Linked DNA regions of Homo sapiens. The protein of the gene in region 3 purifies or fractionates together with the protein of the main gene of each other region. This does not show direct contact. Each region holds a gene or a part of one and is shown on either strand. Other genes may lie near its edges. The genes, in order: ANKRD22, STX6, TMEM200A, PPP3CA, FYN, PLEKHH3 and STX7.

What was found.
Region 1: the proteins of TMEM200A (region 3) and ANKRD22 purify together in Homo sapiens (co-immunoprecipitation; one large-scale study listed by IntAct). This does not show direct contact.
Region 2: the proteins of TMEM200A (region 3) and STX6 purify together in Homo sapiens (affinity purification with mass spectrometry; 2 studies listed by BioGRID and IntAct, with this or other methods). This does not show direct contact.
Region 4: the proteins of TMEM200A (region 3) and PPP3CA purify together in Homo sapiens (co-immunoprecipitation; 3 studies listed by BioGRID and IntAct, with this or other methods). This does not show direct contact.
Region 5: the proteins of TMEM200A (region 3) and FYN purify together in Homo sapiens (co-immunoprecipitation; one large-scale study listed by IntAct). This does not show direct contact.
Region 6: the proteins of TMEM200A (region 3) and PLEKHH3 purify together in Homo sapiens (affinity purification with mass spectrometry; one large-scale study listed by BioGRID and IntAct). This does not show direct contact.
Region 7: the proteins of TMEM200A (region 3) and STX7 purify together in Homo sapiens (affinity purification with mass spectrometry; 2 studies listed by BioGRID and IntAct, with this or other methods). This does not show direct contact.

The regions. Positions count from the first base shown.
Region 1 is NC_000010.11:88,824,345-88,827,844, reverse strand, and holds part of ANKRD22 (ankyrin repeat domain-containing protein 22), read left to right. Parts: intron 1-1,729; coding exon 1,730-1,807; intron 1,808-3,500.
Region 2 is NC_000001.11:181,002,371-181,005,870, forward strand, and holds part of STX6 (syntaxin-6), read right to left. Parts: intron 3,094-3,500; coding exon 2,924-3,093; intron 331-2,923; coding exon 236-330; intron 1-235. UniProt on the Homo sapiens protein: SNARE promoting movement of transport vesicles to target membranes. Targets endosomes to the trans-Golgi network, and may therefore function in retrograde trafficking.
Region 3 is NC_000006.12:130,372,517-130,376,016, forward strand, and holds part of TMEM200A (transmembrane protein 200A), read left to right. Parts: intron 1-3,500.
Region 4 is NC_000004.12:101,057,527-101,061,026, forward strand, and holds part of PPP3CA (protein phosphatase 3 catalytic subunit alpha), read right to left. Parts: intron 1-3,500. UniProt on the Homo sapiens protein: Calcium-dependent, calmodulin-stimulated protein phosphatase which plays an essential role in the transduction of intracellular Ca(2+)-mediated signals. Many of the substrates contain a PxIxIT motif and/or a LxVP motif.
Region 5 is NC_000006.12:111,695,453-111,698,952, forward strand, and holds part of FYN (tyrosine-protein kinase Fyn), read right to left. Parts: intron 1,005-3,500; coding exon 825-1,004; intron 1-824. UniProt on the Homo sapiens protein: Non-receptor tyrosine-protein kinase that plays a role in many biological processes including regulation of cell growth and survival, cell adhesion, integrin-mediated signaling, cytoskeletal remodeling, cell motility, immune response and axon guidance.
Region 6 is NC_000017.11:42,670,705-42,673,994, reverse strand, and holds part of PLEKHH3 (pleckstrin homology domain-containing family H member 3 isoform 1 precursor), read left to right. Parts: coding exon 1-61; intron 62-160; coding exon 161-352; intron 353-438; coding exon 439-596; intron 597-698; coding exon 699-819; intron 820-1,602; coding exon 1,603-1,909; intron 1,910-2,436; coding exon 2,437-2,644; intron 2,645-2,864; coding exon 2,865-3,001; intron 3,002-3,289; coding exon 3,290-3,290.
Region 7 is NC_000006.12:132,450,617-132,454,116, forward strand, and holds part of STX7 (syntaxin-7), read right to left. Parts: 3' UTR 1-3,500. UniProt on the Homo sapiens protein: May be involved in protein trafficking from the plasma membrane to the early endosome (EE) as well as in homotypic fusion of endocytic organelles. Mediates the endocytic trafficking from early endosomes to late endosomes and lysosomes.

The DNA.
Region 1 (3,500 bases), on a different chromosome or scaffold from region 3:
ATGCATAATTTACTTTAATTAAATGACCAAGCTCCCTCCTTGTTGTAGCTCATAAACTGTGAATATTGGTTACACCTGTTAACATCAGCCGCAGAACAAGTCTGCCCGTCAAAAATGTTATTATTTCATTGGGTATTTAAATGCCACAGAATTTGAGGAACTATAATTAAACATGACAATGTTGATTTTTATATTTGGATTTATAGGAGAGAGAAAAGAACTTTAATTCACTAATAAAAATATAATCTGCTCATATCCTCGAAGAATTCTTTAAAAATTCATTATGTATTTAGCACATAGCATTTAAATACATGTATTTTGGGGGCAGGGAGAATCTGTTATTTATTTACAAACATTTTTAGAGATTCTAAAGGTAAAAATTACAACTGTGATTAGAAGGCTCATTCAGAATTTATTGACACACAACTCTGCTTTCTAAGATGGTTCAATGTTTAGAGGCTGGAGGACTGGGCAAAAATAGTAATCGTAATGAATAGCTCAACTCTAGTTTCATGCACGTGCAATTTATTAATGGGGCCTAAAGTTGTAAATTTGTGATGAATTAACAAATAAGTGACATGAGAGGAAATGATAGGGGAGGAGAGAGGAAAGCATTGGGTTATTTCAGAGAAAAGTAGGCAGAGAAAGGCAGTTTAGGAGGTGACACAAGAGGGAAGCCTAAGGAGAGAGAACTGGATGGAGCTTCCCAGGTGATGACAGGGTTGAACTCCAGGGCTATACCCAGCTGAGCAGGGAGAGCTTTGCCTCTTCAGGAGACTGGAAGTTGGGGAAGACTCCAACAGGCTTGTGGTCAGAAGCTCAGGAGACTGGGAAGGAAAAGTGAATTTCTGAGGAGTCCTAGTTCATTTCATTAATTTGTTCAATTCTTTAACGTATGTTTATTATGGACCTACTATGTGCCAGACGCTGTGCTAGCTGTTAGGGACACAATGATGAACAAAATAGGCATAGTTTTTTACCCCATGAGAGTTAGAGGGTGGTGGGGAGAGTCATTAATCAAATGGCACAAACACATGTAAAATTACCATAAAGCGGGTGATACAGAAAGGCGACTGGTGTTAGGATAGCTAAAAAAGAGGGATTTCACCTGGTCAGGTGGGTCAGGGAAAGCTTCTTAGAGAAAGAGGGACTTGGGCTGATGAATGAAAGGTGAATATGCCAGGCAAAGAAGAGAGGGAGGAGGCTTCTAGGCAGAAGGAACTTCCTGTGCAATGATTCTCTGAGAATGAAAGATTAACAAAGGCCAATGTAAGTAGAACAGAGTGAGCCAGGAGGCGCAGAGTGAGAGAGAGGCCAGGGCAGGGCCATACGTGGAGCCAAAACATACGGGGCTTTGTAGGTCATGCTGAAGAGTTTACTTTTGTCCTCAGAGCAATGGGAAGTAATTGCACAGCTTTGAGCCAGGAAGGGAAAGACAGGTACTAGGCCCCATCCTCAGTGGAATTAGGTAGGTTTGGGGTGGGACCTGAGAAGTACATTTCTAAGGTTCTTAGGTGTCAGTGCCGCTACTTCAGGACCACAGTCTGAGAACCTGGCTTTAATTAATTGATATTAGAGTGAGTGAGAAGCTGGGGGAAATTTTAGGAAGGGTGCATGCATGCATAGGAGTGTTGGGATTAAAATGAAGCCTATTGATTAAATAGTCTCAGGCATAAATTGGAGAAACTATTTGTAAATAAGCCTTTCTTATAATTACCATTTGTAATAGGTATCAAAGACAAAGCAGAATGAGGCTCTTGTACGAATGCTACTTGATGCTGGCGTCGAAGTTAATGCTACAGATTGTGTAAGTTTATACTTTTAGCCATTTTGAAAAAATATTCAAAATGGTATTTGTAGGTAGCGTATTTGTCATCTGTACAGTTGCTTTATTTTCCTAGACAATTTTACATTTAGTTTTCTTTTATTTTCTCCTTTTTTTTCCCACTGACAGGCAACCTTGAGGTTATTTATATTCTGCTGAACTCATGGGAATAATACCTCTATTGATTATAAAGCATTTTTAAAATAATTGGCTTTAATGTTGTTGAGACGTTAAGGAAAACTAAGGCTCCGATAACAAAATACCAGCCATAATAGTTAAGAAGCTGGAGTGAGAATGCCCATGAGTAAACTCTGGGCTTGCCACTTTTTACTTCTATGAGTTTGAGCAAGTTGTAAACTTATTTTACTTTCAGTGTCCTCATCGGTAAAATGGGGATATGGATAATACTTATCTCATTGGGCTTGTTCATGTAAAGCACTTAGCACATGCTCAGAATGTAGTAAGTGCTCATTGAATGGCAACAGCTGCCACTGCAGCCAAAATCCCAACCCACTGATGAGAGGCCCCGTGTGCAAACTACAGATAAATAAGACAAAGGTCAAAGAAAAATCCCACTGATGGTAAGAGCAGTGATAACAACAGTAGCAGCATCCGCTCACTTCTTCCTGTTTATGAGCATAAGGTGTTGTTTTCACTTTCACCTCTGTGCTCTTGCACTCATCTTTCTTTCTCAATGATCACAGAAAGACAAAAGTTTATTTCTATGGTGTTTTGCTTATGGTGATTGAATAAAATTTTGGATTCCCAGTTCCTTATTGAAAAAGTAGGCAAGTGGAAATTTGATTCCAAAATACTAACATTCTATTTGTGATGCCTAACATATTTTACGTGTGTGCACATCTGTGTGTATTACCATTGTTTTATGATAGAGACCATGGCCCCATTCCTGTTTCTATCAATTATTTACATCATTTCGGTTTTGCCTATGCTGGTATCATGTTTAAATGCAGGCAGTTGTGTGTGTGTGTGTGTGTGTGTGTGTGTGTGAGAGAGAGAGAGAGAGAGAGAGAGAGCAAAAGAAAATAACTTTATGAAATTTATATTCCCTTTTATTTCAAATAGAACTTTTGGATAAATTTGTATTGACAGTTACTGTGCATTACCATTTCTTTAGATAGCTTTGAAATATATTAAGTAAGAGATTATTAAAGATGAAGTTAAAAGTTTGTTGAAGGTTTTTCTTGGTCTTTTCATTTAAATTCAATAGATTTAATATTCCTGCCTGTGACCAAAATTTCTCTAGGATATTTTCTCAGCAATTTATGTGTATTTCTCTCTCTAGATAGAGATATTGCATTCCTTCAGCTAGGCACAGTGACACTAGCCTGTAGTCCCAGCTACTTGGAAGGCTGAGATGGGAGGATCCCTTGAACTCAGGAGTTTGAGACACATGCAGGTACACACACAGACACCACTTCTAATACCAAAATTTTTTCAAAAACTATCTGAGTATTAAAATCTACTTTCTAGGTAAGACAGTGTTTTGTATTTTTGGATAATTAGACTCTATTTCACATGACAAAATTCAGAGCCAGAACTTCCATTTGTCATGCCACCACTTAATAAAAATAAATAATTGCAACATGATCTCCTATAATTTTAGAGGTGTTTCTAGGGAATGGGATCCAGAGCTAAACCTGTCTTGATAGCCAAA
Region 2 (3,500 bases), on a different chromosome or scaffold from region 3:
TTCAAACCCCTGGGCTCAAGTGATCCACCCACCTCCACCTCCCAAAGTGCTGAGATTACAGGCATGAGCCACCATGCGCAGCCAATCAGAGAAATTATATATGGGGAAGCTCACATTTAATTCATATTTAAAAAGTGGTTTCAGAGGTGACCTATTAGTTTACAATTAAGGGAAAGAGCTCTAAGAAGTCTGGCTATTTCTTATACAGATAACACAATAAGATCATATTCCTTACCCTGACAACTTGCCGAGTACTTGTAATGAAGGCTTTTCTTATACTCAATTCAGTTGCATCAAGGTTAAATTTTCTAGGATTTGCTTCAACTATGCGTAGGTCAAAAAGTCAAGGTAAAACAATTTCATCATCAAAGCCTGACAACATCCTGTTAACTCACTGAATCTCTCACATGCAAACAAATAAAATCTGGCTCAAACTTTCTGAAAACACAGTCAGCTGGACACCAATCATTCTCAGACTTCCTCTGCCCACAGCCACAGGAGGGAGGATCCCTTTGCTCCAAGACAGAGATGATCTGTCTGGTTAGGAAGCATAGCCCCTGCTGATGAGCTTCACTGCAAACACTTAGGGCTATCTGACCACAGGTGAGCTGGGCTCTTCCTGTTTGCCAACACTTGTGTCTATCCTTTTTTGACTCCTGATCACCTTTACTAAGACAGCTTTTGCAAGCCTTTTTCTCCTGCCATTCCAAACCACTTCCCATTATGCCAAGATGCTAACCCTACTTCTTAATCTAGAGAGATCGGGCCTTCTTCAGAGAAGCTGCCCTCATTCCCTTACCCTCTAGCCTGGTCCGACGCACCATGTCAGACACTTGCATAGCTCTCTATACTTCTCGTTCATAGTCTGCAGGTATCTATTTGTGTTATTACTTGATTACCATCTGTCCCCCATCCCTATCCACTCAAAGTTCTGTGAGGGCTGGTATAGTGTTTATTAATCTAATCTCTGTAACCAACAAAATGCCTGGCACATAGTATACTCAATAAACACTTGCTGGTTGAATGATGAGTATCTATTAAAACTTTTGTTTTTTTAATCTCACATTTTCTCTATCTCCCCTAACTTTTTTTCCTTCCCTCCTTTCTCAAGGGAAGAATTATCTCCCTGTAACTGTGCTTTTGATCCTGCCCCCTCACATATTTGCCACTAATTTTAGAGAACATACTTGCCTTTTAATAATGTAAAAGGTACCAGGGTCATCATGAATAACAAAAATTATTTACTCCATGTATCAACTGCATACGAACCTGTGCTAACTATAAGGTGATCCTGACAGAAGCTGGTTTCCTTATGTTTTATCTCACTTAGGGAAAAAACAAAACAGAACTCAGAACATGCAAGTGGCATATCTTCCATCTAAAGTTTTGGTTAAGTGGGATTTCCAGTTGGAAAAAAAGGCTATATAATGAAGTTTTTACAGTTCTCCAGTGCATGAGTCAGATCAGTGGACTTACTTCACATCAATACCATGAATTAGCAGAGCAGATCTGCTTTTACTAAATGCAGTTTCATGGAACAAGACATCTCTTCAATGGACGGTAGCACTGTAACATCACTTCTTAAACATGAAGACAGTCTACAAAAAGATTTTTTGATCTCTAATTACCGAAGTGTAACACTGGCCTGTATGGACCTCTATATGATAATGACTGCTAACACTATTACATAAGCTGTGTGCCAGGTGCCATTCTAAACTCTTTACCTGTATAATCCCAATAATCCTATGAGCTAGGTACTCTTGTTATCCTAACTTTCCACTAAAGAGGAAACGGAAGCACAGGAGGTTAAGTGATGAGCCCAAGTCACATGGTAACTGGTTGTGATACTGTAATAAATGCAAATTCGGTCTCTGCCCCCTCATTTCTGGCACACAGCTCCTTGATCCCTTGGAATCTCCAGATGAGTATCTTTTGTATGTTAATGGGATAATTGATGGCTGGGGGTTTCTAGATAGCCTCAGGACGAGGGGCTGGTCCCCAGAGAAACCAACCATGTGATTAGACAGTTGAAGCTTTCAGCCCCCTGCTTAACCCCACCCCAGGGGAAAGGGGCTGAAGGCTGAGCTGATCACCAATGGCCAACTGATGTGATCAATCATGCCTGCGAAATGAATCCTCCACAAACACCAAAAGGACAGAGTTCAGGAAGCTTCCAGATAGGTGAACATGTGGAGGTTCCTGGAGGCACCTGAAGAGGGCCTGGAAGTGCTGCACCTTTTCTCCCATACCTTGCATGCATCTCTTCCATCTGGTCATTCATCTGTATCCTTTGTAATATCCTTTACAACAAATGGATAAACCTAAGGAAACTGTTTCCCGGAGTTCTGTGAGCTGCTCTTGCAAATTAAATTAATTCGATCTATGGAGGGGGTCGTGGGAACTCCAATTTATACGTGGTCAGTTGGAAGCGCTGGTCACAACCTAGGGCTTGCAACTGGCATCTGAAGTGGGGGCAGTCTTGTGGGACTGAGCTCTTAACCTGTGGACCTGATGCTATCTCCAAGTAGACAGTGTCAGAAATATCATACTGACTTGAGTGTGAGGGTAGAGACTTAAAAAAAAAAGAAAAAAAGGGTTTTTTTTTTTTCCCTTTACATTGGTGGAGGCAGGACTTGAACACCAGAAATCTGACTCCAGGGTCCACAGTCATAATCATTACACTATGCTGCCTTTATATATATATATACATTTATAGTACAGGATTTGTCACACACTGTATAAGAATTTGGCTACTGTACCTTAAGTTACTGGGCAAATACTTTAAACATGTCATGGTACAAGTAAGAGCAACAAACATTAATCGATTATAAAATGTTTCATCTACATACTGGAAACAACTGGAGAAAAACTTGTCCATTTGTCTATTTATCCCGAATGGCACAGACACCACAGAAAAGGATATTGATGGTTTCATCAAGGTCCTCTAGATCCCACTCTATGCTCCGGAGGTTATTTCTCAGCTCGTTGGTGGTCCAGTCGATTTCTTCCCTTGTTGCTGTGGAGGGGTCCTGGAGGAGCTCTGTCCATCTCTGAAACAATCCCTGGGCAGTGTTGACTGCTTTCTGTACCTCTCTGTAATCAAGATGAGGCAAAGGAGAGAAATCACAGACAACATTCCATGGTCAAGTTACTGCATGATTTAGGTTAACATTTATGATCATACACCATCCTCAGCAACCACCATTCCCACAGAAGGCTCTTCACAGACAAATATCAAAGTTCAAAACTTTGATACACAGTCTGAGTATTATGTTCTCAGCTGATGCTTGGAATACAATAGCCATTATTTAAGCAGCTACAATATCAAGTTTGTTGGGGAAGGACAAATTTAATATTTTTCTCTGAACAGACTATACGTAAAAGTATAATGAAGCAATCCTACAAATTAACTAAAGGGCAATGAGCATTCCCACATGCTTCCACTTGGTGTGACAGTATTAATAATTTATACTCAGATGATAAGTCCTAATATGGCCTTT
Region 3 (3,500 bases):
AGATACTCTGCCCTGAAATGTGAAAAAATGAGAAGTAGATACATATAGAGAGGGAGAGAGGACACTCGCTAGCACATGCTGAATGTAGCAGGTTCATGAAACACTCTAGTTACAAAGGTGTGTACTTGAGGATGCTCTAAATAAAATGAGTTACTAATAGAATGTGAGTGACATCATATCGTTCCCCAACAAATACAAGGCCAAATTTGTATCTGCTTAGGTGTGTGACTGGATGTGTGCGCAATTGACTGTGTATGTATGTACAACAAGAGGAAGGGGAATGAGAAGGTGTATAAAAATAGAAGTATTTATGAGAACCTTGTAGCCTATTCGGAGAGGTAAAACAACCATGTGTAAAACTTTTAGAACAACTCAATAGAATAATATGTAAACAAATGGTTACAATGCTTTGAAATAAAGCTGGTAGAGATATGCAAAGAATATTAGAGGCCTGTGACACAAAAGCAATGGTGAATAGGAGTAGGCTCTTTCTTGTAAATAGTGAGCTAATCACAGAGGTGCTGATAGATTAGCAACTGCTGGGGAGAAAAAAAAGTATTTTCCTTTTGAGAATCAACATCTTTGGGCTTAAATGCAGGATGAATCCAAAGAATCTCAGTACTGTCTCTAAGCTGAGGTTGGCATAGGAGAGACACAAATTTTGTTTCCCTTGGCAAAGTAAGTCAGATCGGCTTAGTGAACATACATGTGCAAGTATTTGCAATAAAATGGAGTTAGCATTTCTGAAGAGATGTTGTTAGATTTTCTAATCATAAAGGCGATACACACTCCCAATAAAAACCTTAGAAAAATACATTAAGTATAAAAAGTCAGGGAGAAAATTTGCCTGTAATCCTATGACCCAAAGGCACTCATAACATTTTGGCATTTTCTTTCTCCTTATTTTTAATGATTTTTTCCATAATGCTTAATAGTGTATTACAACCTACTCTGTTTGCTTAATCTTATGTCTTAATATTTTCCAACTTCTAGACAAGCTTTATTAATGTCAGTATAATATTGGATTATGTGGACATATCATAATTTATTAACTATTCCCTTAAAATTGAACTTTTAGGCCATTTCCAAATATTTGATATTATAAATGGCACTTTGATGAATCTTTCTTCAAATTTCAGAATCTGTTTTTTGTGCATAAGGGTTATAAATGCATTTATATTCCATTTTATATATGTTTATCAGATTACTTCTTTTAAAAAGATTCGTGGAACGATAATTCCTGGGTCAAAGGGTATGAAAATTTCAGGCTCTTGATACTTAATGCCAAACTGATTTTCAAATAACTGAAGTTATGACTGACAGTGCATGGAACTACCCTTCACATGCTCTCACTAGGTGATTGTTTTTATTTTTAAATTTAAAAAAGCCACCATTTTGAAAAAAAGAATAGTTTATGCTAACTGCTGATTTTGTTCCTTTGTTACCCAAATCTCCCTTTTAGAATGTAGACTATGTAAGATATTGTGATTCATTTCACTTTTAAAAATTTACTTATGTTTCTGAACATGCAGATAGGGGCCCATGATAGAAAAAAGTAGCTTGTGAATGATTTTTTGAAAGCCAGTGTTATACATATCCTGTTTGGGGACTCTTCAGACTCTGCTGTGGAACAGCCCGTGAGAGAAGTTGATTGATGTAGGATGAGAGCCCCTTTTTGCAGAGCTAAACCCCTGACAGCCCCGCCTCTGTAGCCTTGGATATTAGGTCCTAGTAGTCATGGAGTGTTCTAACTGCACTTTTCACTGGGGCTGTAACCCAAGTGAGAGCAGGCCTGTAACTGTTTTGTCCATGGCTATGTCCCTAGCAGATGACCTTAGACAAAGTTTTGCTGGGAGGTGGGATCTGAAAATGCCTGAGTTTTTGTTTTTGTTTTTGTTTTTGTTTTTTTTTTTTCAGACGGAGTCTCGCTCTGTCACCAGTCAGGCTGGAGTGCAGTGGCATGATCTGAGCTCACTGCAATCTCCGCCTCTCAGGTTCAAGCGATTTTCCTCCCTCAACCTCCCGAGTAGCTGGGATTACAGGGGCACACCACCACGCCAGGCTAATTTTTTGTTGTTGTTATTTTTAGTAGAGATGGAGTTTCACCATGTTGGCCAGGCTGGTCTCGAACTCCTGACCTCAGGTAATCCACCCACCTCAGCCTCCCAAAGTACTGGGATTACAAGTGTGAGCAACCTCACCTGGCCATGAAAATGCTTGAGATTTTTCCCCTAGAAAACTTCTATAATGTTAGTCACTGATTGCCCAGAAACAAACTTCCTGAATTTTGAAACTTCTGGTTTTACTCTCTTTTCCAAAGAAAATTCAACCACATCACAGTACCTAGTTTTATGGCAATGAACTTTGACTTATTCCAGAAGAGGAATTTGGATCTTACACATACCTCTGCAGGGTATTTTATTGTCTAAAAACACTTACTGAGAGTAAAGGGAACTATTAAACTTACAGTAGCAGTCAATTTGAGGTGGTTTTTGAGTGCCAATTTCAATTTTTCCACAACTATTATATTCCTACAAAAATAATTTACAACTAAAATAAAAAATGTTTTGGTTTTCTTCTAAAAGTTGAAGGATATTATTCTATTGTAATAACTCTATTCTCCTTTATGGATCTCAGTCAGTAATTTTGAACAAAATTATTTTCGTTCATTTGTTCAACAAATGATTATTTAGAGAGATTCATTCAGCAGGTGCTGTTAAATTATATTATGACTCATTTTGTCAAATATGAGACAGATCTTCTTACACAACAATAACGCAGAACACTGTGTAGGAATTTATGCCTATACATTTATTTACTTACTTATAAGACACATAAAATCTCTTATAACATGCGTTAAAAAGTAAACTTGGCTCAGGAGAAGGTTTATTAATTAATAAAGGATTCATTAAATATTTGTGCTGCCAGCTGGGGATCCAGTAATGACCAAAACAAAAAGTTATGGAGGAGCTTACATTGTAAATGGAGGACACAAACAGGAAACATATAAATGAGCAAGGCAATTTCAGGCATTCAAAAAGTGCTGTAAGGGAAGTCAAGAAATCTGATGTCATAGAGAGTGCATGCGCTCATTTAGATCAGATGGTCAAGGAAGACCTCTCTGCATTTGAGGCATTTAAGCTACAACCTGCGAGAGAATGAGGAGCCAGCCTCACATATTTGGGGAGGGGGCATTGGAGTAGGTTTTATACTCAGTGCACTGGAAAGCCATTAGAAGGTTGCTCTTTTGGAGCATGATGTTTGAGGTCATTTATTAAAAATGAGTGTTGAGATGAAGAGTGCAAAGTATTACCTCACTGTAATGATGATATTGGTATTGGGAGCAAAAACAATGCTCACATTAGAGACTATATGTAGTTATGGTCAAGATATGTCATATATCACTATATGGCTGAAGACATTTCATATACAGTATGTCTCCCTACAAAGGGGTTTTAATATAAATATAACGTAAATATATTTAATAAATTTATAAATAT
Region 4 (3,500 bases), on a different chromosome or scaffold from region 3:
TCAATGTTCACACTGAACATGATCTTAAACTTGCATCTAGAAAAGTGTGGGCAGACAATACCACACTAATGCTGGCCCGGCAGTTTCCAAATTCAATGGAGAGGCATTCAGCATTCTCCTATTATCACCCTGTTTAGAAAGGAGAAAACTATTCAAAAAGGGTAAATGTAGAACCTAATATGTTTTTCCCAAAGCACCAGCTTCTTCTCAATCATAACCTATCGTGAATGCATAATGTATACAATGCCTCTCCTTGTTGAATTTAATTTCTCTTTTTCAATTCCTCTGGGCTCTTTTTCTATGAAATTTGAATCTGATGCTGCTCATGGAACCAAGGCCTGCACTGCTATCATATGCTGGCAAAGCCCAATCAGGCAGAAGGATCTTTTCTTTTCACCTCTCCTCATCTCTTTCTTCCTCCTCCTCTCATATGTACATATACAAAAGAAATAAAACATAAGATTAGATGATTGTTTCTCTTTAGTTTGACTAAGGGAAATACACCAACAAATTTTAAATAAGATGGAGAAAAAAGGTAGAAAAAACACCCACATACTACTGGTTAAGTGAGGTCCATGAGACAGGAAACCAAGGAAATTAAATTGTCTATCCCTAAAAATTATATAGCAATAATCTTATCTCTTTCTGCTAGCTCCCAATCTGATAAGTTATAGACACATAGGACTTTTAATATGCATTGAATACTTTAATTAGCCTGTGTGTAAATTTTGCTTAAAATTTTGAAAACACAAATCTTATTGTTAATATAGCTAAGCAGAAATAAATTAAAGCAGAAGAAACTGTTCAGAAAGATAAATAACTTAATGATGTTTAACTTGACAGGAATGGACCACTGAAGGAAGTTGACAAAAGTGAGAGATAAAGCTCATCTTTTCTAGCTGGTAAGAGCAGGTTAGGCATTCCTGACCATCTTCCTCCCTGCACCTGGTAGGACAAAATTTCTCTGCAGGACTGACTTAAAACTTAAAGAGTGGTAAAGGGGGAATTCAGGGGTCTGCTTAGAAAGAAAAAAATTCTTCCAAGGACCTTAAGACAAACATGCACTCCTACAATTGGAATTAAAACAGAGTTTAAAAAGCAATTGGTGGTGAGCACAGCACATTGATTAGAACTAATTATTTTAAAATAAAGTAACTGACAAAACAAATCCTTTCATGTAAGTAATTGAGATGGTGAGTAAAGGGAACTTACTAGAAGTGAAGTAAGCACAGGGTTAGTCTTGGTAATGTTGGTAACTGTGCAGGAATAACATGTACCAGTGAAATGTGCAGTCATTTTGGCTATGGTACCTGGTACTTAGTAGATACTGAATATATATTTGCTGAGTGAATGGATTAACATAAAAATTACAAACATATGTAGGTCTACACATTCTTATTCTCTACAGTATGTTACATTTTTGTTCTCTATATCATAAATACTGGCCAGTGGACTTTGCAAAAAACAAACATTTATTAATAGGGGATTATTATTGTATTAATGTTAATCTTTCTTTTAAAGAATAAAAGGAATATAGTGAAAGGTACATACTGAAAAACGTTTGTTGATGTTTATGATTTAGGTTCCATTTGGTTAGTATTCTTTTAGGAAAAAATTTCTGCCATTCTGAAAACAGTGCTATCATTTAAAAGATAACAGTAGCAAACTGTGGCTATAACATATGAAACATCTAGAATTTAGATAAAGCACAAAATGTCCATTGATCTCTTGCATATTTCAAAATATGCCAATATATTTAAGTTCTTATATATTCTTAATTTTAGCCCAGTAAAGTTGTTTTTTAAATATATCCATTTTCCCCTTTCCTTCCCTATGTTGCACATCTCCTTGCGATGTGGTATATGACTCAAAAATAGTATATGAAGACAAGTAATAAAGACAAGAGAAGTTATAGAGGAGAAAAACTATGAGATGTTAAAAATAAATCTCATACATTAAATTTACCTGAGTATATAGACTCTATTTACATGAGTGTATGAACAGGTTTATTATACTTTTGCCTGCAGCATTAGGTATTTTGCATTTATACCCATGACCTGTATCAAGCCCAGGTAAACATTAAATCATGTCATTTGGAAACCAACTTTTAGAAAGGACCACATTCTCTTTTCATTTTACTGAACTGCAGTTTTTAAAGGTATACATTTTATCCATTTAAACTCACCATAATATCTAGTTTCCCTTGCCCTCTTCACCCTTTATTTATAATTTGTGTCATTTTATTGATATTATTAGTTTATGCATCAGTCTCTCCAACCAGTTTGCAACTTCTTCAAAGAATAGGTTTTTAATGCATCTTGTAGCCCTGGGTGTCCTGAATCTAGGACCTCTGAGTATACTTTAATCTCCAGACTACTTAACAATACTGAACACAATGTCAATGCTATGTAGATAGTTGTTAAACTGTATTATTTACGGAAAAATGACAAGGAAAAAAAGTCTGTATGTGTTCAGTATAGATGCAACTTTTTCTTGAATTATTTTCAATCTGAGGTTGTTTGAATCCATGGATGCAGAACCCTCAGATACGGAGGGCTGACTGTACTGCTTTTATTTTTGAGATGGGATCTTGCTCTGTCACCCAGGCTGGAGTACTGTGGTATGACCATGGCTCACTGCAGTCTCAACCTCCTGGGCTCAAGATTTCCTCCCACTTTAGCCTTCTGAGTAGCTAGGACCACAATCATGCACCACCACACATGGCTAATTTTTTGTAGAGATGAATTCTCCCTAGGTTTCCCAGGCTGGTCTCAAAATCCTGGTCTCAAGTGATCTGCCTCAGCCTATCAAAGTGCTAGGAACCACTGCACCCGGCCTCAACTGTACTTCTTAAATGCAGTAAAGTTTGCTCTTATGCTTTTCTTCTCTAAGTACATTTTTGTCAGTTTCCATTCATTTTGAGGTGCTTTTGTAAGACTCAGGGTAATTTTCCCCTTCATCTTTAACTTCATGGATCTGTGCCTCTTGCAGAAAAAGCATACCCTTTGAGGGTAATTAAACACCAAGTAATATCTTAAAAAACATAAAAAACTCCTCACAGTTTATTCATTACCTATTACTACAGAAAGAAGAAATATTGGGATTGAAATAAATACCAATATATCAATATGTAAATGCCTTTTTCATCATAAACATCAAAACTTGAATAATTGATGTGAGCAACCCCATTAGAGGACATTTTTAAATTGCCTGGTAAAAGAAAAAATAATTGTCCAGTAATTGGTAACATCTGTTAGAAAATAAAGGATTAAATTTGTATCAAAAAGCCAAAAAAGGTCACTTAGCAATGTGAGCTACTGAAAGCTTATTAAAACAGTTTACTACTTTAACAATGTTTTTAAAGTAATGAGAAAATTCTCATGATATTTGTTTCTTATACTTTTAAAAAGTAAACAGAAAATGAAATCATATCTTTTATTCTCAATAATGTTACGTTTTAAACATAATCCAAATCTTAGAAATTTATTCTTAGATTTAGC
Region 5 (3,500 bases), about 19 Mb from region 3:
CCAAAGCAGGGATAATCATTTGCAGAAGCTGGAGGCTTATGATGGTCATCAGTGATATTTTATGCTTTAATCACAAAGTTATTTACAAAATAACCCTGGATACAAAGGACAAACCGTTTGCCAGAAAAAAAAATTCCCATTAAATTTTAAAAGAAAGTACATGGAAAAGAAAAATTACACTGGTATCCTCTGATAAACAATGTATTGCCTTTTAAGGCTGTTTCTTGTTTGGTTCATCTATTTTTCCAAAACAAAATGATCTCTGGCCTTATCCCTAACAATGCTGGTTTGATTAGGAAGACAGAGGGGTTGTAGGGGAGAGAATGTGAGAATAAATGTGGTCTCTGAAAGCATGTAATTTCATCGCCTGACGTTTAAGAAGAGAGCTGGAAATAAAAAAGATGTTGAAATGATGGAGACTAAACTTAGCTTAGAGACCAGTGTCTGATATTAATTGTTTAGCCCTGCAAAAAGGAAATGTAACAAAAGCTACTACATTCAAAATAACAGCAAACTATCATAACCCTCCGTACCACCCTGATATTAAAAATGAATGTTTTAATTATGGAGAGGAGCTTGAATTTCTGACACACATAACATGTAAAAAGTATTTGGCATTTCATAAGGATTTGGGGTGGGGTAAACGCAAGGTTAGTCTGTTTTAAAAAATGTTTTCATTAACGAGCACATAACTGGTGGTTCCTAATGGGAATACTTGACCCAGGCAGAAACTAGAAAAGTAGCAAGTAGGAAACTTCCATTTCTCTCCCCTAAACAACCCCTTAAGGCACTGTGAGCTGGAGACAGGAGAGGTGTTGCCCAACCTTTGTTCATATACTCGGTGACGATGTAGATGGGCTCCTCAGACACCACTGCATAGAGCTGGACCAGCTTGTCGTGCTTCAGCTTCTTCATGATCTGCGCTTCCTCAAGGAATGATTCGGGGGACATTGTGCCTGGTTTAAGAGTCTTTATGGCTACTTTTGTGTTTCCATTCCAGGTACCTACAAACATCCCAGAATATGAAGTCAAACCAAAGATCTTCTTTTGATGGAAAAAGGTTTTGACCACCAGCTATTTGCATAAGATTAGATTTTAAATTTAAAACACTTAATACAGTTTTTGTTGAACAAAGACATTCAATTGCAAGGACTCTGTCAAGTATTTTAACAGAAAAAATGAGTTTATTTGTGGTTATGGCTAAGATGGCTATATTAAGATTTATAACTCATTAAAATTTTTTTAAATTTTGATATATTACCACTCTCTCTTTTTTTGGCTCAGTCATATGATTACACATTTATACCAAAAGCTCTGCACCATACAGTGATGAAAGTCCAGGGGTTGGAACAGGCCTGGCCATCTAATAGCTGTCCCTTAGGGAGTACAGTGTGCATGGAAGAAATTAGATTATTTAAGTTTATGGGGTGTGCCATTTAAAAATATGGCACCACATGAGGATGTCTGGAAATTACCTCTAGACTTTCAATGTCTGCAATGGACAAGTTACTTGACTGAGTCCTTGCACAGGTGTGCCAAGCATGCTGATAAGCACTGGCAAGGAGCTCACAGTCTGCTTGCCAATACTTCAACAAGGTAAGGCAAATTTCCTCAGCTTTACTGATGGCTAGCCACAAGAACAATGGCTTCTGTCAGGTAGGTAGACAGGGGAAATTAAACAGCAGCTGAGAGGGAACAGAAATATTTAAATTTAGCATGTTAAAAAAAAATCTAGCAAATCTGAAGGCAAGGCCTGGATTATGATTGTCCTCAGTTACCTCATCTGTAAAATATAGGAATGGAACTGGATTATCTTTTGGGTCTCTTTCAGCCCCAGCATTCAAAAAACAAAACCATACCTAGGTTCTTTGTGTATTCCATTATTAGACCTATGATGCTTAAGAATAACTTTATAAAGGGGAAGAAATCTGCTAATTTAGATTATTTTCTATTTGAAAAAGAAGACTGGTTTAAATTAAGATTTTTATATTTAATATAACTGACTTTGGAATTTAAGGATTCTGTAAATTGGAGTTCTTATTATCCTGTTAAAGACATGGTTCATACAATTACAACATGCAACCTACAAAATATAAATTATGAAAAAACAAGTGGCTTAAAGAAAAGTTCATTTAAACTTCATAAAATATCTGCCCACTAAGCATTCATGGGAAATTTGACAATTTATAAGTGATCTTTGCTATTTAAGAGTCAGCACCCAAAATTCTAAATACATTAAGATCTTCCTCTGTAATACAAACTTCGTCAATTACACAGACATCCATCCCAATTCTGATGGGCATGTTGTCTTGTGTTTATTGGAAAACAAAATGTGAACAGTATATGTAATGATTTAAAGTTGATATTTGTAAAATTTGAAAATAAATTTTCTAATAGGGTCCAATTCTCTGTGATTGTGTGAGTAATTTGACTAAAATCCTCTATTATTAGAGGGTGAATGAGGAAGAAGGAGGTCATATATTTTACGATACTTGAGATTAAGTCCAGAGAGAGATGGACACAATAATGTGGATTTATTAAACTAGCTAACTCATACATATATATGTGTATGTCTGTCTACTACCTATTTATCCACCTAACATACCTACATACATCTTTGTAGTACTTATCATTTGCTGGGCTATGTTTTAAGTGCTTTAACTGTATTAACTCTTTTTTTTTCTTTTCTTGAGACGGAGTTTCGCTTTTGTTGCCCAGGCTGGAGTGCAATGGTGCAATGGTGCGATCTCCGCTCACCGCAACCTCCACCTCCCAGGTTCAAGTGATTCTCCTGCCTCAGCCTCCTGAGTAGCTGGGATTACAGGCATGCACCACCATGCCCGGCTAATTTTGTATTTTTAGTAGAGGCAGGGTTTCTCCATGCTGGTCAGGCTGGTCTCAAACTCCTGACCTCAGGTGATCTGCCTGCCTTGGCCTCCCAAAGTGCTGGGATTACAGGTGTGAGCCACTGTGCCCGGCCACCTGTATTAACTCTTTTAATGCAGACCACACCTAAAGATCTATACCCACACGTAGCAAAGGGTACTGATCGATATTGTTTTTAATGAGTTCTGAGGAAGGAAGATAGAGGATTCCATAAGTATTAATATTGTTTTACTGAAACATGTTTTTGAGTGGGGCCTAAACCCATGAATTGTTTCTAAGCAAAGCTGTAACTGACCCAAAAGGGCTATAAAAGAAATTACAAAGGCCCAGTGCAGCCAGCCTTATCAATGACAATCAAATAAAGAGAAGTATGTATCTCTACTGAATATCTACTATCTGCAAGGGACTTTAAACATATTAACCCATGTAATCCTAAAAATAATCCTTTAAATAAGTATCATTCCAGCCGGGCGTGGTGGCTCACGCCTGTAATCCCAGCACTTTGGGAGGATGAAGCTGGCAGACCACCAGGTCAGGAGATCGAGACCATTCTGGCCAACATGGTGAAACTCCGTCTCTACTAAAAATACAAAAATTAGCTGGGCGTGGTGGCA
Region 6 (3,290 bases), on a different chromosome or scaffold from region 3:
ACTTGGAGCCTCATCCCGGAGAAAGGGCTGCCGGAGGACGACCCGGACATCGTTGTGAAAGGTAGAGACCCCCCTCAGTGCACTCTGGAGGCCCCCAATCCCAACCCCCTAGGGATTAATGTCTCTACTGATGTCCCTTCCCTCCCTCTCCGGCCCCCAGGTTGGCTGTACCGGGAGCCCCGCGGAGGAGGGGCGCGGCCCTGGCTGCCCCCGCGCCGAGCCTGGTTTGTGCTCACGCGGGACTCCCTGGATCAGTTCAGCAGCAGCGGGAAAGGGGCGCGGCGTCTCGGGAGCCTCGTGCTCACCAGCCTGTGCTCGGTGACCGGCCCAGAGCGCAGGCGTAAGGAGACAGGTGAGACCTCCTGGGGACTCTCCTACCTTCCTAGGCAGGGGCCCCGGCAGACCCTAATGGCCCTCCCTGGCCTCTCTTTTCCCCAGGTCTGTGGTCAGTGACTGTGTCTGGTCGGAAACACAGTGTCCGCCTCTGCTCCCCACGCCAGGCAGAGGCTGAGCGCTGGGGGGTGGCATTGCGGGAAGTGATCGCCTCCAAGGCACCCCTGGAGACCCCCACCCAGCTACTGCTCAGGGACATACAGGTACACACCAGGGAGAGCCAGGAGAGTGGTGGACCCCAAAGCTTTCTGGGGTTGTGAGGAACTCCCTTCCCCATCAAGGTGACCCTCTCCCTGGCCCCCTAGGAAAGTTGCGGGGACCCAGAGGCCGTTGCCCTCATTTACCTGAGGAACCCGATTCTGAGACACACTAGTGGAGCCTTGTATGCCCCACTCCTGCCCCTGCCCTATGGAGTCAGCGCCCCAGGTGAGTGGTCCCATGGCCCAAGTCCCCTGGATGGGATGGGGTGGTTCAGAGGTAAGAATCTGAATCCCTTAACTGGCAGGGATCTAAGCATCCTTCATGGACCTGCCAGCTCCTCACTTTTCGAAGGATGAAGGTGAAACTGGAAGCTGGCCAGGGTGGAGGAGAGGAAGCCAGCACACACAAAAGGGCCCCCTTTGGCCACCTTCTCTATGGGTCTCATTCTGACTACTGATGTTCCTTCAGGAGTTTGTACACTCCCCTATTTTTTCATTATCCTCTTGAGACTATGCCATATTACCTTTACAAGTGGTAGAAAAGCTACCACTTTTGTAGAATGTGCTGGCCTCATCCAACTGTACTTCTCCCTAAACGGTGTAGTGACTGGCCCAGGTCCTAAAGTTAGAGGATTAAAGGGTGCTGGGAGAGGAACCCCGGTTTTCTGACTCCTAGTCCAGCCTGTTTTCTGACCTATGGTGGTGAGCCTCAGTATGGAGTTACAGAATCTGGGGTGTGAATCTACAGCCCTTCCCGGCCGTCCGTCTCCCTAAGTCCAAATGCAGGCTTAGTGGGATTGGGAAGGGGATTCCTGGGAGGCAGAGGTTGAGAGTCTGGCTCCGTGGGACCACTGCTTTCCCTTCACTCTTCCTGTCGTTCGTACCCTCCCCTCCCTGCCACCCCATCCCCTTATATTCCCTCTGACCTTCCCCTGGTTCATGCCTTCCTCCCAGGGCGCAGCTCTGTGTCCCCTCTCCAAACCGTCCCTCCGCCCCCACCCTCCCACAGGTCCGGGCTATGCACCCCTGCGCGAGGAGGCGGTGCGGCTGTTCTTGGCGCTGCAGGCGCTGGAGGGGGCGCGGCGCCCCGGGCCCTTGATGCAGGGTGTGCTCCAAACCTGCCGGGACTTGCCCGCGCTCCGGGATGAACTCTTCCTGCAGCTGGCTAAGCAGACCTCGGGCCCTGCAGGTCCCCCCGGGCTCCCGGCTACCCAAGACCCTGCGGCCCTGCGGTACTGGCAACTCCTCACCTGCATGAGCTGCACCTTCCGACCTGGGGGAGCTGTGCGGGGGCACCTCCTGGGGCACTTGGAGAGGTGAGAGGGGCGAGGTGGGGGTTACGGCCTAGGCGAGGAGCTACCGGGCTGGGAGAGAATGAAAGGTCTTTTGCAAAAGACTTGGTAGGTAAAGAACCGAGTAATACATACAGTGCCTTTGTGGGAGATACAAGATCCTATCGCAGTTGTGAGCGGATGAATTACAATAAAACGCCCCCCTTGGGCTGAGGAGTTATGAAAAGGCTGCTTTTCCTCCAGCTGATGCAGGCCAGCGCCAGGGCTTAGGAAAATGTAGTAAAGTGGCTGGATTTCGATTTCAGGCCGAAGGAAGATCACGAAGACTTTTGGAAGTGGTGGAGGCAGTTGGGAGAAAGCTGCCAGGGGACTTGAAAAGTAATTCAGCTCTATGCAAAGCACTGGGGAGAGATTTAGAAGAGCCTTCAAAGAACTTGAGTTGGGGCGGGGAGGAAATCGGCTAGATAAAATAAACTATAAGAGAAGCAGGCAAGAGGGAGGGGGAGAAGAAAGCCCTTGGAGTATTGATCCCTGGGTTCCTCCTAACCCAGGACCGAGCAGGCACTCCCGGACTCGGAACTGGCGGAATATGCGCGCTTCATCCGGAAAGCGCTGGGCCGGACGCGCGGCAGAGAGCTGGTGCCCTCGCTGGCGGAGATTTCCGCGTTGAGCCAACGGCAGGAGCTGCTGTGTACCGTGCACTGTCCGGGGGCTGGTGCCTGTGCTGTGGCCATCGACTCCCACACCACGGCGGGGGAGGTGAGGCCAGAGAAAGGCCCCATGACCTCCAACCCACCCTGCCAGCTTCTCACGCCTGTCTCTCCCTCTTCCTGGACCCTAGGTTTGCCCCGAGTCTAGATTATTTTGGTAAGGGAGGGAGTGGTGGTGACAGGACTAAGAGACCCCTTCCAATTGAATCAACCCCTCCCAGAATCCTGGCAAGACCTCTGAGTGGTCTCCCCTCACCCTCCTCTTCTAGGTGGCTCGAGAGCTGGTGGGGCGGCTGGGCTTGGCCCGGAGCCGCAACGCATTCGCGCTGTACGAGCAGCGAGGGGCCCAGGAGCGAGCCCTGGCTGGGGGGACCCTCGTGGCCGACGTGCTCACCAGGTTTGAGAAGTAAATGTCCAGCCCCAGCCCTGCTCTCTATTAGCCCATCCACTTCTCAGCTGAGGTCAGTCTCTAAGCGGACATTATCCAGCGCTTGCCCCTGGCCCTGCGCTGTGGTGTTCGCTGGTTTACAGACGGACCTGCCCGCCGCAGGTTTGCAGTCCGACTGCAGCATCACCTCCGCTGTCGGCTCCGCCCAGGCCCCGCCCCAAACACATGGCCCCGCCCCCACCCCAAGCTGCCCTCGCCGTAGGGGTCCGGCTTCTCCCTAGCGCTTCGTCCGCTCCTCTTCTGCAGC
Region 7 (3,500 bases), 2.1 Mb from region 3:
AAAAATGCAGGAATCAATATGAAACACTTAATTGATAGGCTCAATAGCAGAATGGAAGCTACTGCAGAAAGAATGAATAAATCTGAAGATAAAATGATAGAAATTACACAGTCTGAACAACAGAAGAAAACAGGCAGAACAAAGATGAACAGAACCTCAGGGACTTACGGAACTACAATAAATCTAACATTTGTGTCATCAGAGTCTCAAAAGAAAGAAGAAAGAAGGAAGACTGAAAAAGTTCTTGAAAAAAATGACAGCTGAAAACTCCCCAAAATTGGCAAAAGACATAAACATATAGATGGTGAGAAGACCTCAAATATAATAAACCCCCCAAATCTACAAGATACATCATGGTTAAACAACTAAAAACTAAACACAAAGGAAAAAAAGAAAAAGAAAAAAGACAAATGACACCTATCTATAGGGACCAAAACAATTTAAAAAACTGGATTTCTCATGGGGAACCATGAAATTTTCTTTCCTTTTTTTTTTTTTTGACAAGGAGTCTCGTTCTGTTGCTCAGACTGGAGTACAGTGGTGCGATCTCAGCTCACTGTAATCTCCGCCTACGGGTTCAAGTGATTCTCCTGCCTCAGCTTCCCAAATGGCTGGGATTACAGATGTGCACCACCATGCCGGCTAATTTTTGTATTTTTAGTAGAGGCGGGGTTTCGCCATGTTAGCCAGGCTGGTCTCAAACTCCTGACCTCAAGTGATCTGCCCGCCTTGGCTTCCCAAAGTGCTGGGCTTACAGGCGTGAGCCACCCCTCTTGGCTGGAAGTGGCAGAACAATTTTCAAGTGCTGAAAGAAAAGAACTATAAACCTACAAGTCTATGTCTAATGTAAATATTCTTCAGATATCAAGGGAAAATCAAGACATTTTCAGATGAAAGAAAACTGAGAGAATTTGTTGCCAATGGAACTACAATAATAATAATAAGGCTAAAGGAGTGCTCTAAACAGAAAGGAAATGATAAATGAAGGAGTTTTGGAATATCAGACATCAAAAGTCTAACAAAAAATACAACCAAAAACTCTACATATAAATCTGAGAGCTTAGATGAAATGGACTAATTCATCTAAAAATACAAACTGTCACAACTCAATATGAAATAGATAAATTAAACAGCCATATAACTATTGTAAAAGTGGAAATTACAATAAAAAGAACTCCCTCCCCCAAAATCTCCAGGCCCAGATGATTTCATTGGAAAGTTCTATCAAATGTTTTAAAAAGCGCTGACACCAATTCTATACAATCCGCTTTAGAAAACAGAAGAGAAAGGAATACTTTCCAGTTCATTTTGAAGCTAGTATTACCCTGATACCACCAACCAGTATGTCGCATTAAAACAGATGCAAAAATCCTTAACAAAATATTAGCCAAAAGAATTAAGCTATATATACAAAGATACACCACGACCAAGTGGAGTTTATCTCAGGGATGTAACAATGGCTCAACATTCAAAAATCAATCAATGTATCTACCACATGAATGGGCTAAAGAAGAAAAATGGCATTATGTAAATTAAGGCAGAAAAAGCATTTGACAAAATTCAACATAAAATTCATAATAAAAACTTGCAGAAAAAAAGGAATAAAAGATAACTTCCTTAACTTTAGCAAGAGCATCTACTTTAAAAACCTACAGCTAACATTATACTTCATGGTGAAACACTGAATCCTTTCTGCCTAAGACCAGAAACAAGCCAAGGATCTCTACTCTCACTGCTTTTATTTCTGCTGGAATTTCTACCCACTGCATTAAGGGACTGAAAGGAAAAAAAAAAGGAATATAGGTCAGAAATGAAGAGATAAAACTATTCATTATTTGCAGATGACATGACTATCTATATAAAAAAAAAATCCCAAGGAATCAATCAAAATCCCCTAAAATGAGTAAGTGGGCTCAATAAGGTCTCAGTATACAAAATAGAAAAATTCACTTTATTTCTATGTACTTAGAATAGACATGTGAACAGGAAATTCAAAATACAATGCCATTTACAATCTCTCTCAAAAATTAAATTGCTTAGGTATAAATCTAACAAAACATGTACAGACCTTGTATGCTGAAAACCACACAATACTGATGAAGGAAAACAAAATTTAACTGAAATGAAGTGAAGTGATCCTGTGATCATGATCGGGAAGGCTTAACATGGTAAAGATGTCAAATCTCCCCAAATTGATGTATAGGTATAACATAGTTCCTGTCAAAATCCCAGTAAGATATTTGAATAGATACAGACAAGATTATTCCAAAGTTTATACGGGAAGACAAAGGAACTAAGTGGCTAAAACAATTTTGAAAAAGAAAGTGGAATAAACCAGCCTATTTGATTTCAAGACTTACTACAGTAATCAAGATTTTGGTGTTGGTGGAGGTATAGACACATAGTCTAATGGAAAAGAATAGAAAACCCAGATATAGACCCACACGAATGTGCCCAACTGATTTCTCATTAACTCATTTTTGCTCAACTGATTTTTGACAGAGGTGCAAAAACAATTCAATGGACAAAAAAGAGCCTTTTCGACAAATATCATGTTGGAGTAATTGAATATCCATAGGCAACAACAAAAAAAATGAACCCAGACCTAAGTCTCACATTTTATACAAAATTAACTGAAAATGGAATATAGACTTAAAAGTAAAACGTAAACTATAATACTTTTAGAAAACAACATAAAAGAGAAAATTTGGGGGATCTAAGGAGAGAGGCAAAGTTCTTGATACCAGAAGCATGATCCATAAAAAGAAAAATGGATAGAGTGGACTTCATCAAAATTAAACACTTCTGCTCTGTGAAAGGCCCAGAAAAGAGAAATGAAAAGACATGCTACTGACTGGGAGGAAATATTTGCAAATCACACATCCAACAAAGGACTAGTATCTAGAAAAAAATACACACACACACACACAGAGGCACACACACACATTATTTAAAAGCCCTCAAAACTCAACAGAAAAAAAATCCAATTAGAAAAGACATGAAGAAACATGTCACTAAAGAAGAGATACAGGTGGCAAATAAGCATATGAAACAAAGATGCTCAACATCATTGCCATTAGCGAAGGGAAAATGGTAAATCAAAACTGCAATGAGCTGTCACTATACACTTATCAGAATGACTAAAATAAAAAAGAGACACCACCAAATGCTGAAAAGGACATGAAGCAACTAGATCACTCATACACCACTGGTGGGTATATAAAATAGTACAGCTACTTGGTATAAGTTTGGCAATTTCTTAAAAACTAAACATTCAACTACTATATGACCCAACTACTATATAACTGCTGGGCATTTGACCCAGAAAACTAGATTATGTTCACACAAAAACTTGTACACAAATGTTTATAGCAACTTTATTTATAGTAGCCAAAAACTGGCCCAATGTCTCTCAGCAGGTGAACAGTTAAACAAACTGTGGTACATCTATACTATGGGATTCTATTCACACTAAAAAGTACCTGTCAATAGACTTGATA